2 separate regions of the Homo sapiens genome follow, and region 2 is linked to region 1. Evidence: fine-mapped expression QTL. A gene starts in region 1. The other region holds a variant in brackets. All regions are shown on one strand. Distances are between the middles of the regions.

Region 1 (16,105 bases):
TTCTCTTGGACTCTCAAAGTTCAACCAATCAAAGATGAATTGATTCTCAAAGTTCAATCAATCAAAAATGAATTAATTCAAAGTCATTAAGTTTGTAGCTTGTGCTATGTCTTTAGGCAACACTTGGGTAGTGAAAATAAAATAAAGAAAAAAAGCAAAAAGCAGTGCTTCTGAAGGGTGATATTGTTTCAAGAGATTAACAAAGATTTGTCATGCATTCCAGAGCTGTGGGGTGGCAGTGCACTGCAACTTGTTGTTAGAGCCTGCTTGTTGCTGCCATCAAGGTCAGGCTGTCTTTGCCACCCCTCAGTGCCCATCAAAATAATGCATCGATAACAAAAGCTGTAGCAGCTTGACTGACTTCTGCTGCACCCAGAAATTTTGGGGATAAACTACAAGGGGAAGCTTTGAATTTCTCTGGTGTGAAAGGATACCCTCCATTTCCTGCTAATTAAGCCATATTAGGAGGAGGCAAAGATTTGTGGCAGATGAAATCAAAGCTGAATTGAGAACATTATTAACGAAAATTAATCTCTAAGCTCTCCTTCATTCCCTTTTCTCTAGACTAGCATGGTTTCTTTCTTTCTATATAGCCATTTTAATATTCAGGCACAATTTTCCTCTTAATATTCAACTATTGTTAGCATGATACTTATATTTTTTATAGTATTTACAAGGTCTTTTAAATTAGTCTTTTTCACTGAACATTTATTTTTAAAATAATGTTTTTATTATGAAAAAATTATATGATCATTATAGAAAATTTGGAAGCAAGTGGCAGTGACAAAACGTAATAATATATTAAGTTAATGATAGATACGAAATTTCTATAGCCCAGTTCAGGCCTCAATTCATCAAAAAGGTTGCTTAGGGCCCAAAAGATTTTTTATTGTAGGTGTATTGCTATTATTGCATTTACCATGTTTTAAAAAATCAAATCATTACCCGTAGTCTCATTCAAGAGCAGGTGCACTTTCTTACTCATTTTTCTCCGTAAGTTTCTTTTAATCATCAGTTTTTTGCAGCTTCTTTGAGGTATAATTGACAAATATTAAAATCCACATATTTGTTTATTTTTATTTTGACTTTTTTATTTTTTAATTTATTTTTTCTTTTCATAGGTTTTGGGGGAGCAGGTGGTGTTTGGTTACATGAATAAGTTCTTTAGTGGTGATTTGTGAGATTTTGGTGCACCCGTCATCCAAGCAGTATACACTGTACCCTATTTGTAGTCTTTTATCCCTCACTCCCTTTCCAGCTTCCCCATCACAGAGTCCCCAAAGTCCATTGTATCATTCTAATGCTTTTGCATCCTCATAGCTTAGCTTCCGAGTGAGAACATACGATGTTTCAAATCCACATATTTAAAGTGAACAATTTGATGAGTTTGAAATACATTTATATGTATCTGCGAAACCTTTACCCAAATTGGGTTAATTATCACCTGCTTCTCGCTTCTTCAGGCAACCACTGATTTCTGTCACTATAGATTAGTTTGCATTTTTGAGAATTTTATGTGAATGGAATCTTATTTTTTCTAACCTCTTTCTCTCAGAATAATTTTTTAGAGATTCCTCTATGTTGTTTTGTATATTTATAGCTCATTACCTTTTTTTTTATTTGAAACAGGGCCTTGTTCTGTTGCCTCCACCTCCCGGGTTCAAGCAATTCTCCTGCCTCAGCCACCTGAGTAGGTGGGACTACAGGCACGCACCACCACGCCTGGCTAATTTTTGTGTTTTTGGAAGAGACGGGGTTTCACCATGTTGGCCAGGCTGAGCTCATTCCTTTTTATTGCTGAGTAAGAATATGCTACAATTTTTTATCCATTTATCTATTGATGTACATTTGGCTTGTTTCTAGTTTTTGGCTACTACAAGTAAAGCTGCTATGAACAGTCATGTATATATTGTGTGGACATATACTTTCATTTCTCGTGGATAAATAGCTAGGAGTAGAATGGTTAGGTCATATGGTGACTGCATATTTACATTTTAAGAAATTGTTTCTCAAAGAGGTTGAACAATTTTACATTTTCACTAGTAGTGTATGAAATTTCTGGTTGCTCCACATCCTTGAAAACACTTGATATAATCAGTCTTTTCAATTTTAGCCATTCTAGTGGTTATGTAGTGGTGTAGTTGAACATTTTTTTCATGTGCTTATTTGCTATTTGTATATCTTTTTTGAAGTGTTAATTAAAATATTCTGCCCATTTTTAATAAAATTGTGGTGGTGGTGTTAGAGTTTTTAAAAAATGTATTCCAGATATCAGTCCTTTAACAGATACATTATTTGTAAAGATTTTCTCCCAGTCTAGGGTTTCTCATTTCCTTTTTAAAATAGTGTCTTTGGATAAAGTCTAATTTATGGTTTCTTTTTATTCCTGTATCCAAATCTTTGCCAAACTAAGGTCACTATGATTTTTTTTCCTATTGTGCTCTAGAAGTTTTATAATTTTAACTCTTGTATTTAGGCTTATGTTTTATTTTGAGTTAAATTTTGTATATACTAAGCGGTAAGAATCAAGGTTCATTTTTGTGCATATAGATACCAAGTTGTTCCAGAACCATTTATTGAAAAGATTATTCTTTCTCTTTTAAATTGTCCTGGCACCTTTGTCAACAATCCTAAATATGTGGGTCTATGTTCTATTCTAATTCATTTATTGATCTATTTTTATGCGAATACCACACTGTCTTGGTTAATGAAACTTTGTAAAAGCTTTGAAGTTAGGCAGTACGAACCCTCTGGCTCTTTTTTCAAAGTTGTTTTTCCAAAGAATTTTCTACAGAGTCAGTCGTGTTATCTGCAAATAAAGCCAGTTTTATTTCTTCTTTTCAAATCTGGATGCTTTTCAATTTTATTTATTTATTTCCTATTGCATAGAATAAAATCTCCAGCACTGGATACACATGTTCTCTGTCATAAAGAGAGGTTATAATTCTCAACTAGAGGAAAGATTTATGAAATGTTCCTTGGTGTATAGCATTTTAGATTTCAGTTATAGAATGAGATTGTGTGCTCAGGATTACCTGTCTGCAATGCCTGATATTTTCCTCTTGGGCAGGCATCCAACTAGTATCTGAGAGGGAAATCCAGTAGCCAGAAGGAAGGAATCTGCTTTACATTAATTCTCAGGACAATATTATTTGACTATATACAGATAGGATAATGATGACATGATAATTATAGGCAGGAAAGCTATGAAAAATAAAGCTTGAAGTAGGATCTGAACACCTCGTTTTTGAAGGGTATCTCCAAATATTTTATTGGAATACCAGATATATGAATTTCTCTTAAGTTCATAGGCTTCAAACGTTCTAACAAAGCACAGTCCTGAAAAAATAACTTGAGGGGCTTCACCGAAGAAGATATACAAATGGCAAATAAGCACATGAAAAAAATGTTCAACCACACCAAACATTAGGGTAATGCAAAGTAAAATCACAATGAGACATTACTACATACCCACTAGAATGGCTAAAATTAAAAAGACTGACCACATCAAGTGTTTTTAAGGATGTGGAGCAACCAGAAATATCATACACTACTGGTATGTAAAATTGTTCAACCTCTTTGAGAAGTAGTACACATATGCACAGAGTCATATTAAAATGTTACCTATGCAACTGTCCTATACATTAAAGTTATTAAAAGATCTGAACACTTAGGAAAATAGGACTGAATAAGCAATTAAGTATTTTTTTTCTTTTCCTGCAGGTGAAATTTCTCAGGATTAAAAAATTCTCTAAAAACATCCTAAAGGAAATTTTTTTTCAACAATTTTTCTTCTATGAATTCACTTTTCAGTTCACATTTCTGGAGAAAAAAACTCAGTGAAAAATTGATGAAAAATGTTCATCTAAATGGCAAAATATTCTAAGCTAAGCAAAAAGCATTTTTTAGATGCCAGTGATTGAGTTACCAAGGGTGGGTATTGGTTGCGTAGGATGGAGTGAGCCCAGGAGGTCCCGGCTAGGAGAGTATCACTACTGACCCCAACATATGCTGGGATTGTTGGGTTTGCCTAAGAGCAGCGGGGTTTCAGTTTATAGTACCTATCTCTCCCCACCCCAATCCTTTTGTGATCAATAGAATATATTAAAATGACAGCTTGCAAACTATGAAAAAGCTTGCAAACCTCACAGAAGAGAAGTCTTTAAAAACTATTAAAAATTTTAAAGACACAGGGTCTTTCCATGTTGCTTAGGCTGGTCTCAAATTCCTGGGCTTAAGTGATCGTCCTGCTGTGGCCTCTGTGTAGCTGCTGTGCCATTGTGCATGGTGAAGATAAGTTTTTTAAAATTATTATTTTTGTTTTATTATACAAGTAGTATGAGTTCTTTGGGAAATCAATTTAAAAGCATATTTCGCTATCCAAGTAAACATAAAAATATGCACTTTATTTTTATTTTTATTTTTTTTTTGAGATAGAGTCTCACTCTGTTGCTCAGGCTGGAGTACAGTGACGAGATCTCAGCTCACTAGCAAACTCTGCTTCCTGGGTTTAAGCGATTCTCGTGCCTCAGCCTCCGGAGTAGCTGGGATTACAGGCATGTGCCACCACATCTGGCTAATTTTTGTAGTTTTAACAGAGACAGGGTTTCACCATGTTGGCCAGGCTGGTCACGAACTCCTGACTTCAGGTGATCCAACTGCCTCAGCTTCCTAAAGTGCTGGGATTACAGGCAGGAGCCATTGCGCCTGGACTACATATTATTTTTTTTAACGTATAGATATCCATATATTTTCTAAAATATGGGAATCAATATATACGTATAGATTTATCCTTAAACTTGTTTTATAACATACAATTTTCCATATACTTAAATATTCAAAATCACAAATATTAATATTTTATAACATTATTTCATATGTATATAATTATTTAATCAATTCCCTGTATTTAACAATTAGGTTGTTTCCAATTTACAGCATTACCAGGATTGCGGAGATTGATATTTTTGTGTTTATTTAGATTATTTTTCCATAATAAATTCTCAGAAATGAAAATATTGCTGAAGGATCAAAACACTTTTGAGATTTTTGCACATTTTGACAAATTTTGACCTAACAGATTCCTAGTAGCAGTGAGTGAGAGTACTCATTTCATCATATACCTGACAGCAGTGAGTATTATTTTAAAAGACATACATGCCAAGTTGAGGGAATAAAGTGTTATCTCTGCTTCATCTTTCATTTCTTTGATTACCAGTCATGTGGGACTTTTAAAACATAACTGTGTTAATGGTCATTTCTATTTACTCTTTTGTAAATGATCATTCTTTTATTTGATCAATACTTATTGATTGCCCACTATGTGTGAAGCACTGCAGAAGGTGTAACATTCAGCAGCAAATGAGAGAGAGACAGCCCCTGCCCTAATGGAACATAAAGTTTTTTTTTTCTTTTGAGGACAGAGTCTCAGTCTGTTGCCCAGACTGGAGTGCAGTGGCACAATCTCGGCTCACTGCAACCTCTGCTGCCTGGGTTCAAGTGATTCTCGTGCCTCAGCCTCTGGAGTAGCTGGGGTTTCAGGCGTGTGCCACCACATCCGGCTAATTTTTGTATTTTTAGTAGAGACGGGGTTTCAGCAGGAATCACTGCTGACCTCAGGTGATTCGCCTGCCTTGGCCTCCCAAGTTGCTGGGATTACAGACGTGAGCCACTGCGCCAGGCCTTTTATGGTGGTTTTTGATGTGAGTAAGTGATATACAAAAGTGTAGGAAAATTGGTCTCCCTCTCTTTCTGGTTTATTTTTTCCTTTATCATTGATTAGAAAGATATTTGAAATTCTAGATTATAAATTCACATATTTATTATTTCTTCTGGGTCTCCTGAGTGTAGTTTTTACACTTAATAATTAAATCCATCCAAAATGTACATTATTGTATCTTGTAAGGCAGTGATTTATCTTCTCACTGAAACAGTTAACTCTCTATTTTAACACTATTTATGAAATAATCCTTCCTCCTCTTGAATGATTAGTCATCTCACCTTTATCATATACTAAGTTCTTTTTGAGTAGATATATATTAGGATCCATTTCTGGGCTATTTGTTTCTACCATCAATTTTTATGTGTGTACTACGTTATTGTAGTGTCATAATATGTTTTATTATCTGGTAATGTAAGTTCACTTAATTTATGTGAGAATCATTAATTAAACTGGTTTTAGTAGCTGCTGGAGTTCAGCCTGACTGATGAGATTGCATGGTTTTTATGATGTCGTATAAAGATATATAAAAGCAAAACCTTTTCTTTTTTTCATATGGACTTTTTTCCTTTGACTATAATGTAGCACATGTTGTAAAACTTTGGATCTTCCAGAAAAACACAAAGGAGAAGATAAACATCACCCAATTCTGTCACCAGAGAGAGCCTTTTAAAATATTTTGAATCTTATACCTCTGGCCTTTTAGAGATGCACATGATACATATTATTTTATATTATCCTGCAGGGATTGTGCCTTTTATTTCTAACGATATCTCAGTGGAACACTTTCTATGTCATTAAATACTCTTAGTCTTTTAAAACATTAATTTAATGATTTCATATGACATGTAGAATGTATCATACTATATTTAACCATCCTTAGGTTTATTTGCAGTCTCTATTTTAAATGGTGCCACGATGAACATTCTTAGGGAGTAGGTTAGAGGTTTTTTTCTCTTTTTCACTCATTTTTCTTCTTTCTCCATCGTGTTTGGAAAGAGGTATTTTGGTAAACTGGAGAACAGTGATAGCTTTGATATGCTAAACGCATCAGACTTATCCCAAGGAAACCTGTTGATATGGTTTGGCTGTGTCCCCACCCAAATCTCATTTTGAATTTTAATTCCAACAATTCCCACGTGTCGTGGGAGGAACCTGGTGGGAGGTAATTAAAACACGGGGGGTGGGTCTTTCCCGTGCTGTTCTCGTGCTAGTGGATAAGTCTCACGAGATCTGACGGTTTTAAACACGGGAGTTTCCCTACACAAACCGTTTCTTTGCCTGCCGCCATCCACGTAGAATGTGACTTGCTCCTCTTCGCCTTCTGCCATGATTCTGAGGCCTCCCAGCCACGTCGAACTGTAAGTCCATTAAACCTTTTTCCTGTATAAATTATCCAGAGTTGGGTATGTCTTTATCAGCAGCATGAAAATGGAGTAATACACCTGTTAAGAGTAGCAAGGAATGATGCCATGAGTAAAAGATGGAATCAGGCGGGGCGCAGTGGCTCAGCCTGTAATCCCAGCACTTTGGGAGGCCGAAGCGGGCGAATCACCTGAGGTCGGGAGTTCAAGACCAGCCTGACCAACATGGAGAAAGCCCGTCTCTACTAAAAATACGAAATTAGCCGGGCGTGCGGGCGGATGCCTGTAATCCCAGCTACTCAGGAGGCTGAGGCAGGAGAATTGCTTGCACCTGGGAGGCAGAGGTTGCAGTGAGCCTAGATTGTGCCATTGCATTCCAGCCTGAGCAACAAGAGTGAAACTCCGTCTAAAAAAAAAAAAAAAAAAAAAAAAGATGGAATCAGCTGCCGAGTGTGGTGGCTCACGCCTGTAATCTGTAATCCCAGCCCTTTGGGAGGCTGAGGTGGGTGGATCACAAGTTCAGGAGTTCAAGACCAGCCTGACCAATATGATGAAACCCCATCTCTACTAAAGATACAAATATTAGCCAGTAATCAGAAGTTAAAGCATTCATTCCTTAATCTATTCATCAAATGGCTAAGAAGTTTCTAAAATGCTCTCTTCTATGGAATATGAAGATAAATGAGATTTGACCCCTAACTTCAAAGAACCCGTGATCAAAATTTGTGTCTATGTGTGCGTGTGTGTGTGTGTGAATGAGGGAGATACACAACAGGTAATTATGATATAACACAATAACTGATATACAGAAACATGAACATTTTGCTTGATCCATAATTAGTCAAATCACTAATCTGAGTCTCTTGTTTTTACCCACTATTCCATGCTCCTAATAAAAATAACATTTGAAAATATCAACAGGGATATCTAAATAGATACACATTCATGTCCTATGTTTTGCAGTATGGTGTGCATCCTACATGTACAGGGTCGATTTTTCTACCTCCCTGAGATAAGCTCCCACATTAATCTGCTATGGTACTACTTTCCTCCCTTTATCAATGATTCAAAGAATAACAAGCCAGACATCCTTGGCAACTGAAATCATTTCAATGTATTGAAATCATAAGGTGTACTGGTTAGCTATGGACTGTGCTGTCTCTTAACCCATTCAGAAAGATGAGGGTAGCCGGGCGCGGTGGCTCAAGCCTGTAATCCCAGCACTTTGGGAGGCCGAGGCAGGCGGATCACGAGGTCAGGAGATCGAGACCATCCTGGCTAACACGGTGAAACCCCATTTCTACTAAAAATACAAAAAATTAGCCGGGCGCCTATAGTCCAAGCTACTCGGGAGGCTGAGGCAGGAGAATGGCGTGAACCGGCAGGCGGAGTTTGCAGACAGCGCCACTGCACTCCGGCCTGGGTGAAAAAGAGTGAGACTCCGTCTCCAAGCAAAAAAAAAAAAGATGAGGGTCACCAGCAAAATTTCTTTCATTTTACATTGTTGATATCTCTGTTTTAATCCGTAGTCCTTGTGGAAGGTGGCTGTTGCCTGTTATACCTTGTGAGGGGGCTTAGCTAATCAACCCTTATTAATTAGTCACTAATATGGGCTATGTACCAACAACTGTTTTCACTAAGTGGTGGCAGCACTAATTGATGGGGCATAATGAGCCCCTCCCGAATTACGAAGAAACATTGCTCCTTACCCTCTGTAGATGATCCCTTATAGATGAAGGGCTACCAAGGGAAGGCTGGAACAGGCATGGGATGGCAGGGTCTAATTTGTTTTTAACCTGCTTCTAAGAAGTTGCTTAATTAATATAGGATTAGCACATTTGAAGGCTTGAACAGGTGCAAACACACACTTGTAACCAGCTGTGTAATTGACCGCAGTGCAACAAGCCAGGTCTGAGCATGCAGACCTCACTAATCACCTGCTGACCTCCTATCTGTGGCTGTAAAAAGACCTGTTCTTTTTAGTGCAGGATTCCCTGAATCTATCTGGAAGGCCATGTATGTTGGGATGAGTTGAAATTTTTGGTTTTTGAGCAAACCTTTGTAAATGGGTTCATCTCCACATATGATACCCCAGAAACATTGCTGCTCCCCTTTTCTTGGTTTGTTTCTGTGGCCTTACTAACAATCTGGGGAATCTTGTGGATGTTGTACAGATGCTCCTTGCCTTCGAGGGGTTACATCTCAATAAACCCATTGCAAATTGAAACTATTATAAGGAAAAATGCATTTAATACACCTATAGGTTTATCAAATGTCATAGCTTAGCCTAGCTGACTTTCAACATACTCAGAACACTTATGTTAGCCTGCAGCTGGGCCAAATCATCTAACACAAAGCCCATTTTACAATAAAGTGTTGAACATCTCGTGTAATTTATTAAATAACATACTGAAAGTGAAAAACAGAATGGCTGTATGAGTACTCAAAGTATGGTATTTATTGAATGTGTATTGCTTTTGCACCATTAAAAATGAAAAATAATTGTAAGCCAAACCATTGTAGTCGAGGATCATTTGTATATGCTGTGGTAAATAGGTCTCCAGGCTTAGATCTCAAAGAATTCCAGAGTTCTAGGAGCCTTTAGGAATAGCTACCTAGTTCAGGGGTTGGGAAACTGCAATGTGGAGCCAATTCAGCCTGCGACTTGTGTTTATAAACCAAATTTTGTTGGAAAACAGCCATGCTTATCTATGTATTTATCCATGTTGCTTTTGTGTTACAATGGCAGAGGTGAGTAGTTGTGTCATTGAGCATATGATGTGCAAAGCTGAAATTATTGACTCTCTGGCTCTATACAGAAAAAGTTTCCTGACCCTTGAGATCAAGGGTCCAATCCATACTATATTTTTCAGCTTTTGTAGTAAAATTAAGTAAATTGCCCTTTATAAAAAGTTTTCAAGGAGCTCACTGTCTAGCAGAGGAGATGAAATACCCAAAATATGTGTAAATTCCTTCCAAATTGCTATTTCTCGTACGTGAAATCTGATTTTTAAAAACTTCACTTCTCATTATTTTTTATTTTCCTGCACAGTAGATTGGGATCTAGGCCTAAATCTAGTTCCTATTCAGTCTGTGTCACCATACCTGGCATCAGTGTATCATATATTTGTTAATTTGTTTATTATCTGTCTTCCTCTATCACAATGCAAGCTTCACAAAAGAAAAACTTTACATTTCTTATTCACATATCCCTAGGGCCTAAAATAGCAACCTGAAATATACTGGATACACAAAAAAACTGTGTTTTATGGAATCTAAGAAGCCATCGGTTGTAAGTTGTACCATTATTTTATATACCACTAAGAAAGAAAAAGCACTGGCAATTAGTCTGTAACACATGCTGAGTCTCCTTGATTGAAAAATACATCCTTGTTCCAGAATTGTTAAGATGTGAAACAATATGCACCTTAAAACCAATGAAGAAGGAGAATTGTCAAGTAGGTGGGAGAAGTGGCGATCTTATAATGATTTTCAAGGCTTAGCTAACATTTTGTCTCAAACCAAATCACAAATATTTATTGAGTAATTGCTTTGTGCAATATTCTGGCCTGGTGCTTCCTCCAAATCATCCCTTACCATAGCACCTTGGGGAACTCCTTGGCGTGCATCCCCCAAGCTGTAGAGACTCAGAGTCTGACGAGCCAATTTAGGACTTAATTATATACTCCTTTTATTGATCACCATTGTTTCTAATGACATAGTCTTTTCTCCACAACTAATTGGTAAGCCCCTTGAGCGCAGGAACTGGTTTTTTAAAGAATGATGTATTCTTCACAGTGCTTTCCCTTTCTGTTACCCAGGGAGCACATGGCAATATAAGGGCTCCTGGGATTGAATCTTAAGTACAGAGAAAACCTAAGAATGCTTTTAGATAGACAGATAAGAGACCAGTAGAGAAGAGCAGATTGAAGGTATGTGTGAGAAACGTTATGTAATGAAAAGATAATTGATGACACACACTTCCAGAGGGTGCTGGCGAGATTGATTCAAAAGCACACGGCTAGGGCACTGAGTAACGAGAAAGAAGTTGCAGATGAAGGATAAATGGACAGGAATAAGAAAGGGCTTCATCATTTAAGAATCTGAAAGAGACAAAAAGGTAAGGAAGGGACTAAATGGGAAGAAAGGGAGAAAACAAACCTTTTCTAATCTCATTAGCTTCACTCTTCCAATGTCCTCCCCACCTCTTCTCAAGGCTCCAGAGAATTTGTCTCCAAATGAAGCCCATTCTCTCTTCTTTCTTGTTAATACTGCCTCCTCTTCTCCCTCTCTTCTTACTACTTTCCCTCCTTAGGCCTACTTACATCTTCTTTCCTCATCAATTCAAAGCTTTCAATTGGTCTTTCTTAGTAAGACATCTCTTTCTAGATTTAGACATATTTTAGGAATTATGAGGACAGAAAAGCAATGCAGGGGAATATGGGGAAGAGGAAGGAACCTGTAATTTATGAATCACTTTTTTTTTTTCACATCTCCTAGGATCTTTACCTAGACCTTTCATTTAATCACAGACACCTTCCTTTAAAATTTTAGATACCCGTCCAAGGGTTCACTAGCAAAGCTGTCGCATGAATTCCAGTCCTCTGGTTTCAGAACCCATATACTGTGCTGACTTTTTTATTTTTATAACATCATGTTGCCTTTCTATAGAGGTAGTTCCTTCTTCTAATTATGAAAGGCTCGTGCTTATGTGTATTCTTATGTTTAATGCCTAGTTTTCATTACTTGAAGAGATTTTGGCAAGATTTAGTACTTTTTAAATATATTTAATTGCACAAGTAATACAGGTCCACAGGAAAAACGATTGAACAATCGTGATAGGCAAAATGAAGAAAATGAAAAATTATCCAGCATCCTTTGTGCCACGGCTTTCAAAATCAGTAAGATGAAAACCAATCCTCCTTCATTACAAAGTATTTTGAATAAGAATATAAGCTTAAGTGCTCATTCAGCAGCAGACAGACATGGGCTAATAGCTCAATGGCCTAACATTTCATCCCCGGACCAAAGCATTAGTTTTAGGCCTTCTTGTGTGGGATCTGTGGATTGTTTTATTTTCTTTCCTAATGAGCAATTGGACTAAAGGATCAGGTTTAATTATAACTAGAGTCCCTTTCTGTTTGTACATCACTGCAGACCTAATTGTAGGCTGGCATCCCTGCTGCGGCCTGAGTGGTCATTAGCTTGCTGATAATGAACTATGCTTGTCAACATGGCCTCATTAACCATTGTTTTTTTTTCAGCAACATGGTTGTAAGGGTTTGAACTTGTGATTGAGGATGTGCTGGACTCATCGTGCTGAGAGAAACTTGTCCAGTTACGTGGTTAGAACCAAAGAGTTTTGGCTCAGACAAGTGATGCTATCCAAGGATAACTGGATCTATGCTGCAGCCTCAGGAATGTGACATGTCAGGAAGAACCCTGACCTGAGAGTTAGAGAGTGAGATTCTTATCCCAGCTCTGTGCTGTGTAGCCCTGTGACTTTGGGCTAATTGTATCACTTTCTGTCCTCTAGTTTTCTCACCTGAAAATAAGAAGGTTCTACTCAATGATTGGTGAGATAACTTTTTGTCAATAAAAATAATTTTGCATGATGCTTGTGCAAACATTTTTTTCCTTTTTTTTAATCAGTGATTTTATCTTCTTAGGTTATACACTAGAGGGCAGTGGTACATTAATATTATAAACTATGAATGCACTTGGTACTGCATTCAGCTGAAAGTCATAGACATTTGAATTAGGAAGGGATCTTATCTATTTCTCATTCAAAATATAGGAAGCTGTTCTGTAGTGTCCCCAACAGATATTCTTCATGACCCTGTTGAACATTCCTAGTGTTGGGAACTTTGCTACTTCGCAAGGCAGCTTTTTTTTCTTGTTAGTTCTACTTATTAGAAAGTTATTTCTTCAATTAGTGAAAAACCTGCTTTCCTATAACTTTTATCGCTGGTCTTGCAACATGGCAGAAAACTGTATCGCCTTCTTGTAATGGCATTTCACATCTTTTATAGAGTCGTATTACTGAATAACTGTATTTACCATTTATTGGTAATTAGTAATTGTAAATTATAATTTATTGAGTATCAACTATGTATCAGCATTGCACCAGGCATCTTATTTACATTATTTTATTTAATTCTCACAATAAGCTCTGAGGGAATTTTCATCTTTATTTATCTGTATTTTACAAAGGCTCAGATCAAAACCACGTAACTGGTAAGCCATGTAGGTGGGATTTGAACCTAAGTCTGATGAAAACCCCCTGCCATTGCTCACAAAACAACACCTCCTTTTATAAAGGTGAAGACATAAGACCCAGAGAAGGGAAGCAACCTGCTTGAGATCACACAGTAAATAGGAATAGAGTAGGAACCGGATTCTAGATCTTTGGAGAACACATTCAATTTTTCTTTGCCGTACAGCACAGTGCACTCAAGACCGTTGTCATTTAAGTCCCAAATCCTCTTTTCTATATGTTAAATGTTCCTGTTTCCCCTCATTGTTATTCCAATGGTTTCTTTGCTGTCCTGTCATGTCCTCTGAGTGTGCTCTTAATTTGCTGCATCCTTTCTTTCTTTCTTTTTTTTTGAGACAGGGTCTCACTCTGTCACCCAAGATGGAGCGCAGTGGTGTGATCTTGGCTTACTGCAGCCTTGACCTCCCAGACTAAGGTGATTCTCCCACCTGAGCCTCTCGAGTAGCTGGGACCACAGGTGCACTCCACCATGCCTGACTAATTTTTTGTTGTTGTTGTTTGAGACAGAGTCTCGCTCTGTTACCAGGCTGGAGTGCAGTGCCACAATCTTGGCTCACTGCAATCTCTGCCTCCAGAGTTCAAGTGATTCTCCTGCCTCAGCCTCCCAAGTAGCTGGGACTACAGGCATGCCACCACGGCCAGCTAATTTTTGTATTTTTTGTAGAGATGGGGTTTTGCTGTGTTGCCCAGGCTGGTTTCGAACTCTTGAGCTCAAGCGATCCACCTACCTCAGCCTCCCAAAGTGCTGAGATTAAAGGCATGAGCCCATTCTTTCTAAATTATAAAACTCAGAATTCAAAACAGTGCTCTGTTTGAGTAGGAGAGAAGTCACTGAGACTGTATTTCCTGTCATTTGGACTTAATTTTCTATTAACATTGTCTAAGGTTGCATTAATATTTTAATATAATGTTGGCTTATTTCAAATATAAGGTCAAACATACCTCTTGTTCCTTTTAGTTTTATTTTTATGAAATATAAGAACAAGACAGAGTGGTCCTGTTATGTTCCTATCGATAGAAAAAAAATCCTCCCTATCTGATGAAGAGTCTTTCTGAATTGATAGTAACCTAGAATAAATTTCTGGGTTCTTAAGATATTCAAGGCATATGAACATGAAAATACTTGCATTTCTGGGATGATGATTGGATTCATTTTATATGTCAACATCCATGGTTGTTTTTGCTTTCCTATCAGAAATGCATGCTTGCTGTGTGTTGTAGACATTCATTGCTGTTTCCTTCCTGCCTATTATCTTTTGTCATAGCATGACTTTGACATCCTTTTAAAAAAGGCTATGTGCAGCCCAAGAGGAGCTGTTGATCAAAGGGGCCCTGTCCTTGTCTAGCCAAGAGTTGGGCATACGAAGCAATGCTCTTTGCCTCAGGACTAGAAATCCTGATTCTAGTGGTATGGAATGGAGAATTAGCAGTGACTGATTCATCCTGGTAACACCAATGCCTGACTTTTCAATATTTCCTTTGATCTGTGAGCCAATAATTTTTAAATATATATATGCATATATATAATTTTAAAAGTTAGAATCAGTTTCTGATGATTGCAGCCAAAGCAATCCTCACTCATACATCAATCTTTGGGATATATTTACTTTTTTTGAAATAGCCTTATCAGAAAGTTCTACCTTTTCATGACATAGCAGAATAGCTCATCTATCCAACAGAGTTTGTTAACCTATCTATCATAGAAACTTTTCAAACAATTTTTGGGATGACAGTTTTTAAACTATGTTTTCCACATCTAATACAATGGATGTGTGCTGAAAAACTAGTGAGAAGTGAAATTTCATAAACTGACTTTCCTAAGGGCAATTGCCGGTCAAAAAAAAAATCAACGTTGACATCCAATGTTGAATCATTTTGAATGCTAATCATCCATCTGTTTTATAAATTTAAAATTTGATGAATTTAGCTTTCTTTTTTTCCAAGAGGGAAGCATTCTCATGTTTTTAGTTAAATGCTAATTCATGTTTGAAACCTATTAATATATAGTTTTGGTGGCAATATTATATCTTTATTTAGGCTGTGTATCATAGGCATTAAACCATCATAGCAATGGGACCTTTTCAATTCTGTTTTTCTTACTGTGTTCTTATCTGCACACTGGGCATCTCTTTCATGTGGGAAAATTCCAAATTCATTTGTAGTTTTATTCCTGACTTTCTGAGCTTCAGGTTCACATTCTCAACTTTTTGCATGAAATATTCATTGGATTTTTCTAAAGGCATATACAGTTCCATGTGACATCCTCAAACCAAGTTCTTTATCTCAAAGGTCAGTATTGAGAATATCATTTGCTACATTATAAATCACCTCTTTGATGGTCCAAGGTGGAATTTTCTCCCTGTTTTCAGTACAGAGAAGAAATGAGCTTTTCCTAAGTCACTGACTTGCTCAGTTCTCACGGACCCTGTGGCTCTTCCAGAGTTGTGACTATTAATACAAAGACTCTTTGAGCCAAAATCATGGCCTCTCTGGCCCACTTGTGGCTTCCACTTACTTTTCTATCCCTGTTTTTCTCTGGCTTCATTGTTTTCTTTCTTTTAAAAATTTTTTATCTTGTTATTTTACCTTACTGTATAGTATACATTTTTGGAAGCTTCTGTAAATCTTTTTATTTCCCACTGGATAGTAAAAACTAACCACATGGATTGGTGCCTTTTTTCCACCTGTCTTTTTCTGTTGTTTAAAATTCATCTCTTTGTTAAAGGCATCTTTAAGCTGCCTACC
Region 2 (16,105 bases), 55 kb before region 1:
TCAGAGTTAAAAATGCGATGCAAAGAGTTGGTGAGAAGGTCTTACTTCACTTCTGGTCTTTTAAAGTTTGGGGTAACATAAGTTGTTTATAGATAACACTCTGTTTTGGCAATTTGGACCTCTAAAATATGTCCATATCAGCGTAAGCCCTCAGTTACCATTGAGTTGCTATTCTTTTCTCAGCTCTTTGTTTTGATTGCTTGATTTGCTTTAATTCAACAAGCGATTTGTGTAGTGCTTTAGTTCAGACATGCTTAGTGAGTGAGTGTGCAGTTAGCATGTAATGTCATCAAGCAGGCCACCACCTGCTTGATGTTTAATGGAAAACTAGATATGTTGTTTAAGATGACATGTATGAATAAGAATAATAACCTCCATCTTAGTGATTTAAGAAGAGGTATAAACTGAGGAGAAGAAAATGGACATTTTAGACTCTAGAAGTTCAGCAGCTCAGTTTGGAAGAAATATCTTCTATTTAAAAATTGATTTATCATAGGCCCTTGAGTTACAATTATGTTTGATATTTAAGACCTAGCATGCATCTAAGTGAGTGATATTCTGGATGAGGATTTTACTGATTGTACATTACACATGCATTACAAATGAAAAACAATTTTTTTTTGTTTTCCTTCAGGTTTCACCAGAATATTAATTGGGTTCATATCCACAAGGAGGCTGAGCCCATGAGGTTCTCTTTAGGAGGCCAGAGTGTAAGGGAACAAATATGTGCACCAGATCTCCATCCTTTGGTTGAAATGTGTTTGGGGGATGGTGTTGCAAAGGACATGCTGTTCTGTCTCTTGTGCTGCTCTGGTTCTGGAGATGAAATGGTGCAGATGTTAAATGGCTGAATACACAGACTTCAAATATTGAAGCATCTTTTTTTCTGGTGACTGTTTTCTAAGATCTCATTTTCAGTTTTAGCCAGGGGCATTGGATTGTTGGTAATGATGTTTTTCTCTACGCAAGTGGAGTTCTACATCAGATGGTGGTGTGGATCTCTGTTTATAGGAAAGTTTGAGATCATGGGGCCAGGAGAGGGGTGATTGTCTAAAATCCAGGCCTGAGACGGACACCAAACAGGAATTTTGAGTGTTGTTGGAGTTGAGCTTGTTCCTGCCTTGATTCTCACCCCTGTAGTTTCAGAGGATGAGTTACGCTTAATTGTCTGCTTTAGAATCCTATTCCTGTCCATAGCCTTAGAGACTTGAGCTGTTCAGTTATCTCTTTCCTCTCCTGTGGTTTCAATTTCCACTCTCCACTCTCTCAACATATCCATGCATTCGGCTGTGTCACATTTAAACACGAGTAAACATTTTTCTTAAAGCCTACTTCTTTTCCTTACTACCCCTCTATTTATCTTTCCTTTAGAAGCCAAGCTTCAAAAAAGCCTAATCACCTCTTGCTACTGACATTACTTACCTTCCAAATACTGCAATGTGTTCGGATTGCCACGTAGTCACACCCCGACTGTACCTCTTTCCCAGATTTTGAGTGATTTCTTATTGGCAGAATCCAATAGTACTTGTTTTTAGCATACCTAGATTCTCTGCTGCATTTAACATCTTGACCACTTCCATTTCAGTGATACCACCTCTGTTGGTTTCTCTTCTACCTTTCTGGTCATATCCCAGTTCCCTTTTTAGCCTCTTCCTCGATCCAGTCTTAAATGCCTGTGTTCAGCAGCCTCTTTGCTTCTCAGTTTACCCCTCTTCCTAGTTAATCTCAGTCTCTTCTATGGTTTCTTCTACCCCATGTACACCGATGCCCAGTTGAGTCCCCTTTCTCCATTTGTCTAATGAACAGACCATTAGATAGATTATCTACACTTAATTTGGACCCTGAGCTAGTTTCTCTGCTGAGGTCCAAGTTTTTTTTTTTTTCAGTGTAGATCTTTGTGATGAACTGCCTTTTGAACAGCCCTGCTTGGATGTCTCAACCATCTCTCAAGTTCAACGTGTCCAAACTTATCTTCCCAACAAACTCCATCTCTATGTTGTCACTTCTCTCAATAAAGCGACTGCCTTCTTTTAACCCAATCACTTTCCCTTCTCTGTGATTGCTTCTCCTTGTTTCTCTCCAGTTACTTTCTTAATATCTGAGGACTGTAACTTCCTCTTCTCCATCCATCCTCAGTCACTGGCATTTTCTCTCTCCTGGTTTGCCACACCAGCCTTTCAGCTGCCTTGCTCCTGGTCTTCCCATTCCATTGTACCTCCGCCAGAGCTACCTTGCTAAGATAAGTAGTCAGGTCATTACTACTCTTTTTTTTTCTTTTTAAAAATAATTAATTGAGATTCGTATTGATTATGATCTGCTTTCACTTTGGTGATTTACAAAACTACCAAGATAAAGATTACAGGCTTGGAATTCCTAGAGGGGGTCACTGATATCACCAGAGAAAAACTTTGCCTTCCATTTGGTGATCTGATGTGGTCTGTATTCATTTCTCAATTTAAAACTGCATATTTACTGAAATCAATCTTTTTATTTTTCAGAATGACATTTTCCTCAGACATTATGACAAAGGGCCATGCAGGAATAAACTTGGCCACTCAAGAGCATCAGTGATGTGGAACCGAACACAGGTACCCTGACCTTATAGGGAGCGTGACATAAACCAAAATCGTGATGGCTTAAAGAGCCCACCTCTTCGCCTTTCCTCATTATTCCCTCCTGGGAGGTACCATCCCAGCCTGGGAGCTTCTGGGGAGTGTTAGGGCAGGGCTAGGGAAAAGTAATGGGGTAAATACCTAAAGTTAATTCATGAGCACAGTCTCCTTAAGGACAAGCGGAGAAACAGGGGCACCAGAGCTGCCAGGCAGTCAACAGTGACGTGCAGAATGCAGGCAGATGTTCTTTCCTCTTGAGAAACAGTGGAATGACTTTCCTAAAGCCCTTTAAGGCATATTACCTATCAAAGGCAGTGTATTAGTCTGTTCTCACACTGCTAATGAAGACATACCTGAGACTAGGTTAGTTATTAAGGAAAGGGGTTTAATGGACTGACAATTCCACATGGCTGGGGAGGCCTCACAATCATGGCAGAAGGCAAAGGAGGAGCAAAGTCATGTCTTAAATGGTGGCAGGCAAGAGAGCTTGTGCAGGGGAACTCCCATTTATAAAACCATCAGATCTCATGAAACTTATTTACTACCACAAGAACGGTATGGGGGAAACCACCCCCATGATTCAATTATCTCCACCTGGCCCTGTCCTTGACACGTGGGGATTATTACAATTCAAGATGAGATTTGGGTGGGGACACAGCCAAACCATATCAGGCAGTGCTCTAAAACCCTGTGAGCCCCTTCTAGGGCTTAGATCCCTGTGTACATGCCATTGTGTGTTTATGTGGCAGGTTCAAAAGGAGTCATGGTTTATTTTTAATTTTTAATAGTGTTTTATATTTATTAAAGGCGGTATTCCTTTGGAGGGAGTCAGTGCTAATATCCTAGTAATCATTAACATCCCTTTGAGCTAGTTGAGGAAATTCAAGTAGAGAGAGAGCACCAATACCAATAATTCATGACTATACTGAGCTTGCGACAGCTTGAGTTAGCATTTGGATGGTTTCCATCCTTGATTTGGTCCTTTGTATCTCTCTGGCTTCTCTCCAATTCAGATCATTGCTGGGCACTAGCTGAAAGGTCCCAGAAATGTAACTGTTCTGTGTGCCTGAGATGATGTCTTGTTCAGGCTGCTATAACAAATGACCATAGACTGGGAGGCTTAAAGAACAGAAATTTACTTCTCATAGTTCTGGAGGCTGAGAAGTCTGAGGTTCAGGTGACAGCATGGTCATATCTTAGCAAGGGCTCTCTTCCTGGTTTGAAGATGGCCATTTTTTTGCTGTGTCTTCACATGGCATAGAGCCTAGAGAAAGAAAGCAAGCTCTCTGGCATCTGTTCTTGTAAGAGCACCAATCCCATCATGAGGGCCCTGCCCTCATAAACCAACTAACTTCTAAAGGCCTCGTCTCCAAATACCGTCACATCGGGGATTTAGGGTTTCAACATATGAGCTTCAGGGGGACACAAACATTTGGCCCACAGCAGATAACAGTATAGTTGGAATAAGTATACATATTGAAAGACTTAATTGCTGAAATATGCTTTTCTTTGAAATTTCCAGGTGGTGGGGATTCTCGTAGGCTTGGGCATCATTGCCTTGGTTACTTCACCCTTGTTACTCCTGGCCTCCCCATGTATAATCTGTTGTGTCTGCAAGTCCTGTCGGGGCAAGAAGAAAAAGCACGACCCATCCACAACCTAAAGATCTCTGTGTTCATACGCCCCAGATATGTGAGTTACATGAGATGGCACAGTGATAAAGCCCCATTTAGTGACCTTGCCTCCTTCTCCTTGCCAACTTTGAAAGTGCCTCCGTGTCCAGACTTTGAACTTGCCTGCCAGCCTTCAGCATCAGGAAAGGCCAAGTCCTGGGTGTGAGTGTTCCTGTGTAACAAGAACTGGGCTCAACGGTCCAGCTGTTTCTATGGAGCTTTGGGGTTCCTTGAGATGAATGAACATATCATTTTATCATCCAAAGGATCTCACTGGACTGTTCAACTTCCAGCCAAATTCAAGGAGCTTGCGGGAACATTTGATATAACAAATGTGTTGTCATTGTTGGCAACATACAAGATAACCAAGAAGCTGGAGTCTGTTCTGTGTTGATTTGACTGCCATGAGAAACACAGGGGAAACCTGATGAGGAGAAGGATAAGACTGCGTAAGGAGAAATCCTCATAGGAGCTATAAAGCAGGCTGCTGATCTCAGCAGTTGATATGGTGGTTGTGCCTCTGCTGGCTACTGGGTGTGCTGTCCCCATGTTCCCGCTGTGATTTGGCAGAAACACAATAGGCTTCTCCTTGTGTGATCTCAGCTTCAAGCAGGTGAAACTGCTGTGCAGAGGGAGTTGCCCCTTCCCAGTAAAAGAGTTGCAGCCTGTTAAACAATGTGGTCTAATTTAGTGTCTCTCCCTTGGCAAATGTAAGTTTTCTAAGTTGGCCAACTTGTCTCTTACAGCCAGTGGCTGTGGTCTACAGAATTGTTTCATATAAAATACGGGTAGAGTGGTAGAGTTTCAAAACTTTCGTCATAGATATCTGGGACCTTTCTCAGGATCTGTGTTCACACAGCCAATAGATTTGGAATCAGGCCTAAGAGTACACATGGAGGGTAAATATTAAAGTGCGTATTATGTACATCTAGAATCCATGTGACTTGCAGCCTACCTGTAATTTCTATCCATTGAGCATGCATGGATATACCCAATAGTACACACAAAATAAATGTTTACTTAAGAGCCATTCTATCCTTTTGTGACTGAAATGGTTTATTGTAAATCTGCCTAAAGATTTTTTGCATATTATATATGTGAATTTTGGTTGTAAGTTCATAACTTACCCAAGGGTATAGACTCATAACTCTTTTAAAACAGTGCTTAGTACAATATCCTGCCATCTCTGTAAAAACGCTAATTGATAACCGAGTCATTTACATGTTTTCGAACACAGAATAGCTCTTTTCTCAGCATCATTATTGCTCTTTCAGCATCTGTTAGGACAGTCTGAATACTTTCTGTTTCAAGGCACTGATAAAACCGCAACAAAAACATGTAAGAAATAAAATAGAAATGCTTTATATAATTTAGTTTAAATTTATGTATCACCTCATTGTGACTTATTTTTTCCATTATACCATTAGTCAGATTTGAATAACGAGGTTTTGAAAGGATAAAACCTTTTCTCCAATGACAGGATTATATAATTGCTATTGGCAATGTAGCCTGGTGCTTCATGAGACCTATGCTAAATGTTACTGGAGAGTTCTTGAAGCCAGGGATACCATATCAGGAACTATTCAGGATCTATGATATTTTCTGAGGTAACTGGGTAATAGAATATCAAATTGCTGCTATCTCGGACCTATTGTTAAAGGATGATGCTTTGCCTATGTAATAGGATATATCCTAAGTGGGGATGTGTATATTTCAGGAACTTTAATTCACAAGTATATATTGATATCTGATGTGTGTATAGTACATCTGTTGGTTATGTACATTTTAATTTACATGTTGTGTAGAACATAGATGAGAACTCTGGGAAAACTTGGGAATGGCAACCAACCAAAATCATTTTTAATCATTTATTAGAAATTTCTCAATATTGTGTCTTTTTCTTTTGAAACTCTAAACACTTCAGAAAAAAACACTATCAGTGTAGTTCATGTTAGTATAATTATAGATTTACATATATTTGAATAGTTAATTTGCTTTGTTTTACACGTAGCCCACTGCCTCATTATAGGTAAAAGGCATTTATAACTGCTCAGGGGATTACGAGAACTCAACTGAAACTGAATTTTTGTAACAAGAATGTTAATAGTGGCAAAGTCCTCTGTCAGTAAACTCTTTAAGCTTGGTGCTGCAAAGAGTCTTTAAATGGGGGCTGATTTCAAGTAACCTAAAAGACTGTGTTATCAGAGGAAGAGGTCCCAAATTTGGAGTAAAGATGGGAGAAAATAAATATGTGCTATTTCCTTGGCGAGTTGAGGGAATTTGCCACCTTACAGAGTTTGTATCACTGAATTAGCTGCTTTTGTTTTTTT[T/TG]TTTTTTTTTTTGCCAGGGCTATGGAGTGGGGGTTGTTTGTCAAACTGATTTTCAATAATTGGATTTAATTTTTTTTAACATTGAAAAGTGCCTGAAAAATGGTAAATTCTTAAATGTGTGTGAGATTGTCAGAATCAACAAAACTAGGTTGGTTAAACATATCTCTGGTACATCAAGGGGCATGATACAAACCAGTCTAAAGACTGTTTATAAAGGAGAGAGCTGGCGACTTATTTTTATTTTTATTTTTTGGACAGAGTCTCCCTTTGTCACCCAGGCCGGAGTGCAGTGGCATGATCATGGTTCACTTCAACCCCTACCTCCTGGGCTCAAGTGTTCCTCTCACCTTATCCTCCTGAGCAGCTGGGACTACAGGCACACACCACCACACCTGGCTAAGTTTTGTATTTTTTGTAGAGATGGGGTTTCTCTGTGTTGCCCAGTCTTGTCTCAAACTCCTGGGCTCAAGCGATCCACCCACCTTGGGCTCCCAAAGTGTTGGGATTACAGGTGTGTGTCACTGTGCCTGACAGCTGACAGTTTTAACTGACAACTTTGATAACAGAGGCTGCTATTTTTGTTTTAGATAATTGGCCAGTGACAGAGTTTACCCTTGCCTCCTTTCTTGGTCTGCCAGCTTTGTCCTTTCTGAGTGATTCTCTTTCTGTATTGAGAGGAAGTGTGGGTCTACATAGGGATGTTTGGATGCTATGGCAAGAATCTTTTTGTGTTTGGAGTGTAGTCCATTTGCAATAGAAATAAAAAAATCCGTCACCAAATTGTAACCTGGATGTTATAGCCCAGCATCTAGAAATCCTATGAAACGTATTAGCACAATATCTTGCCATTGTCCCATCTAGGAAATTTTTTCTTGTTGTGAGGTAGGGAAGTGAGGAGGAAAGCCATGCCGAAGCAAATGTTAGAATCTTAGGCATCCTATTTGTTCATGCCATGGGTATTTGCTTTGGACTTGGAGTCTGTACTTTGAAAGAGGCCTTTGAAAAACAAATAATTCTGTGTGAATTTTCTTGTAGCGTGCTTCATGAAAATATCTACTTATCCAGGTTTGCAAATGTACATGTTCATTTGAATGTAAATCACCATTTCTTGGAACCCCACGTTTTTTCTTAAAAATTATTCTGAATTAAATGTATATTTCTTTAGCCTTCCCTACACAGTACTAATAAAAGACTTTTCTTTCTGTTCATGAATGGATGCCTTTATGTGATATAGAGTCATGTGTGTATGTGTAGCTTTAAGGGCAATTTCAGAAATGCATTAGATGAATGACATTTTATAAAGCGATCACAATTGATATCTACAGGCTATTATGTCTCATGTTGATTCATGATCCAGGAAGTTTTATGTATTTAAAAAATTGCTATCGTGTTATATTTTTCCAATTTTTGGAGAAGAAAATAGCTGTTTAGGCTCTCTAGCCACAATAAATGTAAGCAGGAAATCAAGTGTGTTAACCTTTGTTGCGCTGCACAATTCTAGGCATGTTCAGTTTTATCCTTTGAGAACCAACCAAGTTACTGTTAAATCCTAGGTTCTGAATTTACAAAATGTACCAGAATTTGCAATACCATCTATGGAAATAACTCTTGGCTACTTTACTTCTTAAAAGAAATAGGGTCAGGGGGTCAGGTGTGGTAGCTCACGCCTATAATCCCAGCACTTTGGGAGGCCAAGGTGGGCGGATCACCTGAAGTCGGGAGTTCGAGACCAGCCTGGCCAACATGGTGAAACCCCGTCTCTACTAAAAACACAAAAAATTAGAACCCTGTCTCTACTAAAAATACAAAAAAAAAAAATTAGCTGGACATGATGGCACATGCCTGTAGTCCCAGCTACTTGGGACGCTGAGGCAGGAGAATTGCTTGAACCTGGAGGTGGAGGTTGCGGTGAGCCAAGATTGTGCCATTGCACTCCAGCCTGGGCAGCAAGAGCGAAACTCGGTCTCAAAAAAAAAAAAAAGGGGGTGGGGGGGTGGCAAGTGTAATGCCTTTGTTACACACTTTCTTCTTTGTAGGTGTGATAGTCCACACTGCCAGTGCATAGGAACTCATCATTATCCAGAGCAATAACCAATAATACAGATCTTTGATCATTCTAATAAAAAATGCTGCCAAGTGTCAAAGCCATTTGTTCTGTACAATAAAGGTTGGACTAAACGCTAAGGTCAGTTCTAACCTTCCAAAAGTCTGCTAGAGGCATGTGTTTCCTTGTTATGATTTTTTAAGAAAGGATTTAAGAGTGTTAAGGTCATTTCCATTTGAATTAGTATTCGAGGCAGGTCTTAAGTTGGGTGCCAAAGATTACTTAACAACTAGAGCTTGTGTTTCCATAAAACCGAAAGCTCACTCTCCTGTACTGGTGTTGAAACCTTTTTATTGAAGGCTGGATGCTTCTAAAATGGTACCTGCATACAAAGGTTTACAACTGATGTACAATTCAAATTTCATTTTCTAATCATTCAGTTTTGAGGAAATCAATAAGATCATTTAAAAATACTTTTGGGTTATGGTTTCTTAATTTTCTTAATCATCTCCTAGAATGTCAACATTATTTCATTTTGAAAGTGTGCTTATTGTTTGCTAACCTTGAATTTGCATTCCCAAAGAAATATTGAATGAACCATTTTATATAGCAGTGATTTTAATCAGTGCCCTAACCAGCAAACTCATTGCAATTTAAGTTATGAATCTGATGATTTGGAGGAGAATAATAATTAGGTTTTTCTGTAATTCAATTATTTTCATTTGTTAGATAATAAATCTAGTTTTCTTTAGACCCTAAAGATAATGCCCAACACTATGAGAAAAAGGAAACGAATCTGCTTAAATGCGTTAATAGCAATTATAATGTTTTATTTGTATATTTTTACGTAAACTAAAGAACTTTTGAGAACAATCCTTTGAGATAAATGGAGCAGATTAGATCCATTTTATGAAGAAAGCAATGTTTTGTATTCATGTCTTGCTTAGGTTCATACTGATGAGTGACAGCCAGGAAAAGAATGCACTACGACTTGAAAGTTCTATAATGCTCTTTCATTAGTAATTTCGAGTCTTTCACTCCCAAATCTGTGAGTCCTAAGAGAACATAGTACCCTCTCATTTATCTGCATCAGTGGAGATGTATGTAAGAACATATTTCAAATCATCACTTAGAGGCTGTGTTTTGGTGGGTACCCCTGAGATCCCCTCACCTCACTCCTTGAAGTTTGGCTAGAGAAGGACAGTTGATGGAAGGTAACTAGAAAAATAACAAGGCGGTCTGCATCTGACTTGCTAGTATTGGAAGCAGAATTATAGCTGAATCTATATACTTACCCCAAATGCCCAAGTGCTTGCCTCTCCCCTACAAAGTACATTCTCACAAGTTCCTTTTGATATTTACAATCAAGATTCAAAGGGACTGTTGACTCAGATCTAACTCCTTTCTTATTAACACTGCCAACTTGTACTCAAATGTGTATTTGTAGCCTACCATTAAATCAATTGGCAGTTTCCAAAGCTAGAAAGGGGACTCCAAGTAATGAACTTAATTTCTCATACATAAAGAAGTCCTTTCAATTCCATTTTCTGCCTTTATGATTTTCGATTTTTATCAGTGCTATATTTGCCCTCAGTTTTGCTTTTTTTTAGCTGTTAAATCAGGAATTCGGGCTTTCGATGAGAAGGAAATTAAGTTGAGTGTTGGTCGTTTTATCTTGTAGTTCCTTAAGGACCTGACATGATTCAAGAAGATATATTTCCTTTTGTGGGGAGTGGAGGGGTGGTTAACATCAATAGTACTGAACACATTCAGATAAAATGAACATGAAGGTATTTTTGAGGTAAGTTATGGGACTTCTGATTATTGATCAGCCTCGACTTATGTTTTGAAGACAAGCCAATTCATTTTAAAACAAGTTCAGAAATCCACATACCACCCTGTGTGGTGTGTCCTGAATTCCAGCCTGGCCCTGGGACTTTGGCACCACAAGGGCATGTGAACAGGGTGCTGGGAGAGGGCTGGCAAACGTGGTGCCACCCTGGCCACAGAACAAGTGTGCAGCGTCCTCTGTCCTCCCGGCCCTCTGCCAATCCAGGTGGTGTGGGGTTGGAGGCAGACGCCCAGCTGGCAATAAGATGGCTTCAGTTCTAGGCCTGGCTGTGCTCTTGACTGGTGGTATGGTCTGGGGCCAGCCCTTTATTGTATAGCGTCATTTCATCCCTATCTCAGGTCAGGCTTAGGTGGATCGAGTAAAATCCCGAATGTCAAAGTGCTTCTAAGTGTTGGTTGTTAGGGAGGTGTGAGGAGAGCGAGCCACTGAGTTAGGTGTGCTTGCAGCTGTTAAGTGTAGTTGATCAGTTTTTTGTTTGTTTGTTTTGAGACAGTCTCGCTCTGTTGCCCAGGCGGGAGTGCAGTGGTGCTATCTCTGCTCACTGCAAACTCCGCCTCCTGGGTTCAAGCAATTCTCCTGCATCGTCATCCTGAGTAGCTGGGACTACAGGCGTGTGCCACCACGCCCAGCTAATTTTTGTATTTTTAGTAGAGACAGAGTTTCACCATGTTGGCCAGGCTGGTCTTGAACTGCTGGCCCCAAGTGATTCATCTGCCTCGGCCTCCCAAAATGCTGAAATATTACAGGCATGAGCCACTGCGCCTGGCCGAGTCAATCAGTTTTTAGCCAGGCATTGTTCTGAGAGGAGAAGAGGGGGCAAACTTGGGGCAGGAGGAGGGTAGTCCTGAAATACATTTCAAGCTTGTCTGTGTTGAGAGAAGTATGACCCCCTCCGTAAATGTATTTTCTTTTTAGGTTTAAAAAAAAAATCCTATGTCATTGTTTAACAAATATTTCACAAAATAGTTAAATCTAAGTATATGCTTCATTAAAATGAGGGGAATATGTGGAAAGAAATGCAGAATTTATATCAACACATTGATTTTGGGGGGAAGGTTTATGGTAAGAACTTAGTGTTTAAATAATGCCTTATAGTATGCAGTTTCCTTTTGCTCTTCATACTACTCTAGAAAGTAGATATTACTCTTCACACCCCCCCACCCCCAATGTACAGATGGGAGATGAGACTCAGGGGTTAGAAGACATGGTGCAGGTCGTACAGCAGGTGAGTGGCAAAGCTAGAACTTGAACCCACATCTTGCATGAACTAACTCGGGACCTGTTTGCATTATTTTAATTTTTAAAAGCATCTAAAAACAACACATTTATTACTTCAGTTTCTGTAGATCAGAGGTCTGACGTGATGTTGCTGGGTTCTCTGCTCGAAGTTTCACTGGGCTAAAAATCAAGGTGTTGGCCAGGTGTGGGGGCTCATGCCTGTAATCCCAGCACTTTGGGAGGCCGAGGTTAGCGGATCACGAGGTCAAGAGATTGAGACCATACTGGCCAACATGGTGAAACCCTGTCTCTACTAAAAATACAAAAATTAGCCGGGCGTGGTGGTGGGCACCTGCAGTCCAACTACTCAAGAGGCTGAGGCAGGAGAATCGCTTGAACCCAGGAGGTGGAGGTTGCAGTGAGCTGAGATTGTGCCACTGCACTCCAGCCTGGCCACAAAGTGAGACTCTGTCTCAAAAAAAAAAAAAAAAAATCAAAGTGTTGGATGGGGCTGTGTTCTCCTCTGGAGGGAGGCTCAGAGTCCTATTCCAGGCTCTCTGGGTGTTGTCAGAATTCAGTTCCTTCTCACACCTTCCACGTGGCCCCCTCCATCTTCAAGCTTGCAACAGCTCATTGAGTCTTTCTCATACTTCAGACCTCTTTGGCTTCCTCTTCTGACACATCTCTGGCTTCCATTTTACATTTTAATGGCTACGAGAGTATGTATATTTGTCATTTTCAAAAGGAAATTTAGCTTTTTAAAATCTGTTCTGTTTCCCAGCCCCATGAAGGCAAAGAGTTTTCACAGGTAATAGAATCTGCTTGAAGACATCACAAACTTGGGGAAGAGTTAGCAAAATCTAACTTCTACCTGGGAACTGTTGACTTACCGTTGGAATTGGGTCTAGTATAGCCAAGGAGATCAGCAATTCTGCTTCTGGCTAGTGTCCTTGGGAGGTCCATTTGGTCTATATGTGGGACAGATTTTCTTAAATGGACTCAGAAGAAAACCTGATCTGAGCTTTCTAAACAAACCTTCAGAAGATTCAGGATTGGATTGAATCTTGTTTTGGATTCAGGAAGGACAACTCTTTTAAGAGCTGGCTTAAAGTACAGGATGGTGTTTCCATTCAAGTCAGACCAGTAAAGCAGATGGATCTGAGTTAACCAGTCACTGCCTGTTGTTGAGGGACGTGCAACAAAAGTCAAGGTCATTGCCTCTTCCCCTCTCCCACCCCCAGTGCAGCAATACAGACCCGGCCAGATGCTGTAGATGTTTTAAACTAGCATAGCCATGCTTTTGACTAGAAATGAAAGACTGGAGGGAAGTTTGATAGCTCTCCTAGTCTCTTGTGGACAAGTTACAATTTCTCTTGGCTTCGGTTGCCTCATCTAGAAAATTAGGAAGTAACTGTTTTCTAGGTTCAGTACAAACCTAACATTTTGACTAAGATGGAAAAAACCTCCAGCCCCCTCTGTGAGCTCTATATGCATGAAACTAGTTAGCTCAAGGGAAATTCTCCTTCTTAGACAAAGTAATCCTCAGAAGCAGCTTCCAGATGCTGTTATGGATAATGCCAGAAGCATATGAAATATATTGCCAATTTACTTAAAATGAGCAAATTCAAAGAGTAGTGGTTGAACCTCATGGTTTATCTACAGCTCTTGGTGGCTAAAAAGACCTATAATCAAAGTTGCTTGGGGAATTTCCAGGGACATGTTTCTTCTAGTACCTATACAAAAAATATCAGGACCTCACTCTCCTTATTTGAAGCACACCATGGATTATTATGAGTGTGTTAGTCTAAGGGGCTTGTTATTAATTTTTTTCAGTATACATTGTATTTTCTGCAAATTGAGTTAAATTTAAGGTATATATATTGATAGCATATAGGATAGTATATATGCATGTATGTTTGTGTGAATGAGAAGATAAATAGGCACATCGACTTTGTTAACAAAATTTTTATTCAGTCTTTAATGAATTCGATTTTCAAAAGTAGAACACAAAACTACTTGTGAACTTTGAAAAACGGTAAATAAAGAAATAAGTTAATTAAAAAAACAAGTTAATTAAATATTCAAAGAATGCTTTAAAAGTTTTAAGAGTGGTCATACTAAAACTCAGTCCTCATATTTACATCTGATATCACAAGTGTGTCATAGCCAAGGAAGTAAAATAAGAACTTGTGGTGGGGCATGGTGGCTCACGCCTGTAATCCCAGCACTTTGGGAGGCCGAGGTGGGCGGATCACTAGGTCAGGAGATCGAGACCATCCTAGCTAACACGGTGAAACCCCATCGCTACTAAAAATACAAAAAAGTTAGCAGAGCGTGGTGGTGGGCGCCTGTAGTCCCAGCTACCTGGGAGGCTGAGGTGGGAGAATGGCATGAACCCGGGAGGCGGAGCTTGCAGTGAGCCGAGATCGCACCACCGCACTCCAGCCTGGGTGTCAGAGCGGGACTTCGTCTCAGAAAAAAAAAAAAAAAAAAAAAAAAAAAACTTGAAAAAAATCTTCAGGTTTAATTTCTTTTACCTACCTTAAGGAAAACAAAAATGTGTGTTGATTGCACCTTAAAATGAAAATGATAAAAATAAGTGGTTGTATTCTTCTCCCACTCCCCATTCATAATCTGCAGGGTATTTCTCAAACAATAAATATCCTCAACTGGTGTAAGAATGTTAATTTACTACTGGAGGGAACAGAAGATGACCTGGAAGCATTGTCCCAAGCTAACTGCTGAGGGCTAGACACTTATTTGAGGTCTCTGGTTTTATTTTTTAATTTTATTGTTCATTTAAACATTCATTAAAAATTATAACCTCCATACTATTTTGATTTTAATTAAGTAATTTTGTTTGTAGAGACAGGGTCTTGCTTTGTTGCCCAGGCTGGAGTACAGGGGCACGATCAGGACTCACTGTAGCCTCAAACTCCTGGGCTCAAGCAGCTTCCCACCTCGGCCTCCCAAAGTGCTGGGATTACAGGTGTGAACCACCACAACTGGCCTGATTTTATTTATTTTTATTTTTGAGACAAGGTCTTGCTCTGTCGGCCAGTCTGGAGTGCAGTGGCGTGATGATCTCGGCTCACTGCAGCCTTGACCTCCTGGGTTCAAGTGATCCTCCCACCTCAGCCTCTTGAGTAGCTGGGACTACGGTGCATGCCACCACACCCCGCTAATTTTTTAATTTTTTTGTAAAGACAGAGTTTCACCATGTTGCCCAGATTGGTCTTAAACTCCCGAGCTCAGGCAATCCTCCTGCCTCAGCCTCCCAAAATCCTGGAATTACAGGTGTGAGCCACCAGACCTGGCCTGATTTCATTTTAAAGATTACATTTTAAATTATTGAAGTAAGATTAACTTCTTCTTTTTTCTTTTTTTTTTTTTTTGAAGACAGAGTCTTGCTCTGTCACCCAGGCTGGAGTGCAGTGGCACGATCTCGGCTCACTGCAACCTCCACCTCCTGAGTTCAAGTGATTCTCCTGTCTTAGCCACCCGAGTAGCTGGGACTACAGGCGCACACCACCACACCTGGCTAATTTTTGTATTTTTTAGTGGAGATAGGATTTCACCATATTGGTCAGGCTGGTCTCGAGCTCCTGACCTTAGGTAATCCACCCGCCTCGGCCCCCCAAAGTGCTGGGATTACAGGTGTGAACCACTGTCCCTGGCCAAAATTAACTTCTTAAAGATGCTTTATCTTTGTCTTGTATCCTCCAGTACCCCACAATACCCTGGGGTGTTACATACACCTGTTTGAGAAGCATGAGCAAGTCTACTAGGTTATTTTAATCACCAAACATATATTGAATGCCTTCTTTGTACAAACAAATGTGTCTCAATTAGTTGTTTCAAGTGGCTTAGTTAGGTTTAGGAGAAAGAATACGTTGGTCTACAGAAAAAGGAATGACTGCATTGGGTCATGCCTGGTACATGCCAGGTGATTGGTGTAGACAGGTGCCATGAACCTGTGGAGAAGGAGTGAGATTGTTGGAACTTTTCAATTCACATTTCATGGAGATGATGCTGATCAGGGTGTTGAGAGACAGGATTGTGATCAGCAAGGGCATTACAGAGAGGAGGCATGATGACAACAGTGTGACATGGGGAGTGAGAAATAACTGAATGAAACAGAAATAAAGCACCTGTGGGGTGCAGAAACAGAGAACCTTGAGTGCCAGGCTCCCGTGTTGACAGGTTCTTTTTGGGGTGAGGAGCCATTTCAGGGTTCTGTGCTTGAAGAGTGGGGTGAGGTGCAGTGACTCATGCCCATAAACCCAGCACTTTGGGGGGCTGACATGGGAGGATCACTTGAGCCCAGGAGTTCGAGACCAGCCTGGGCCACATGGCAAAACCTTGTCTCTACCAAA

Alleles and levels. Alleles are on the strand shown, and positions count from the first base shown. SD is a standard deviation of normalised expression in the study named.
For the expression in monocytes after R848 of the gene that starts at base 6,992 in region 1, allele TG in region 2 goes with a higher level than allele T (large effect, 1.2 SD a copy in Quach 2016).

The links. PIP is the estimated chance that this variant, and not a neighbour inherited with it, causes the effect.
Region 2: its variant is fine-mapped to the expression of MIR548A1HG in monocytes after R848 (Quach 2016, PIP 0.95). The same link has a PIP of 0.9 or more in monocytes after LPS and monocytes after Pam3CSK4.

Annotation. Positions count from the first base shown.
Region 1 is chr6:18,515,756-18,531,860 of GRCh38, forward strand. It overlaps MIR548A1HG (MIR548A1 host gene), which reads left to right and starts at 6,992. Exons shown (of 8, transcript NR_149116.1): 1 at 6,992-7,080. LOC105374955 (a long non-coding RNA gene) reads left to right here. Exons shown (of 4, transcript XR_926549.3): 4 at 1,630-1,665. RefSeq lists an enhancer at 11,837-12,472.
Region 2 is chr6:18,460,793-18,476,897 of GRCh38, forward strand. RNF144B (ring finger protein 144B) reads left to right here. Exons shown (of 8, transcript NM_182757.4): 7 at 2,499-2,588; 8 at 4,135-8,078. The coding sequence ends at 4,275. Among named protein-coding and RNA genes, the nearest start is that of MIR548A1HG, 54 kb to the right of the region's middle. The variant T/TG (reference allele first, on the strand shown) is at 6,616.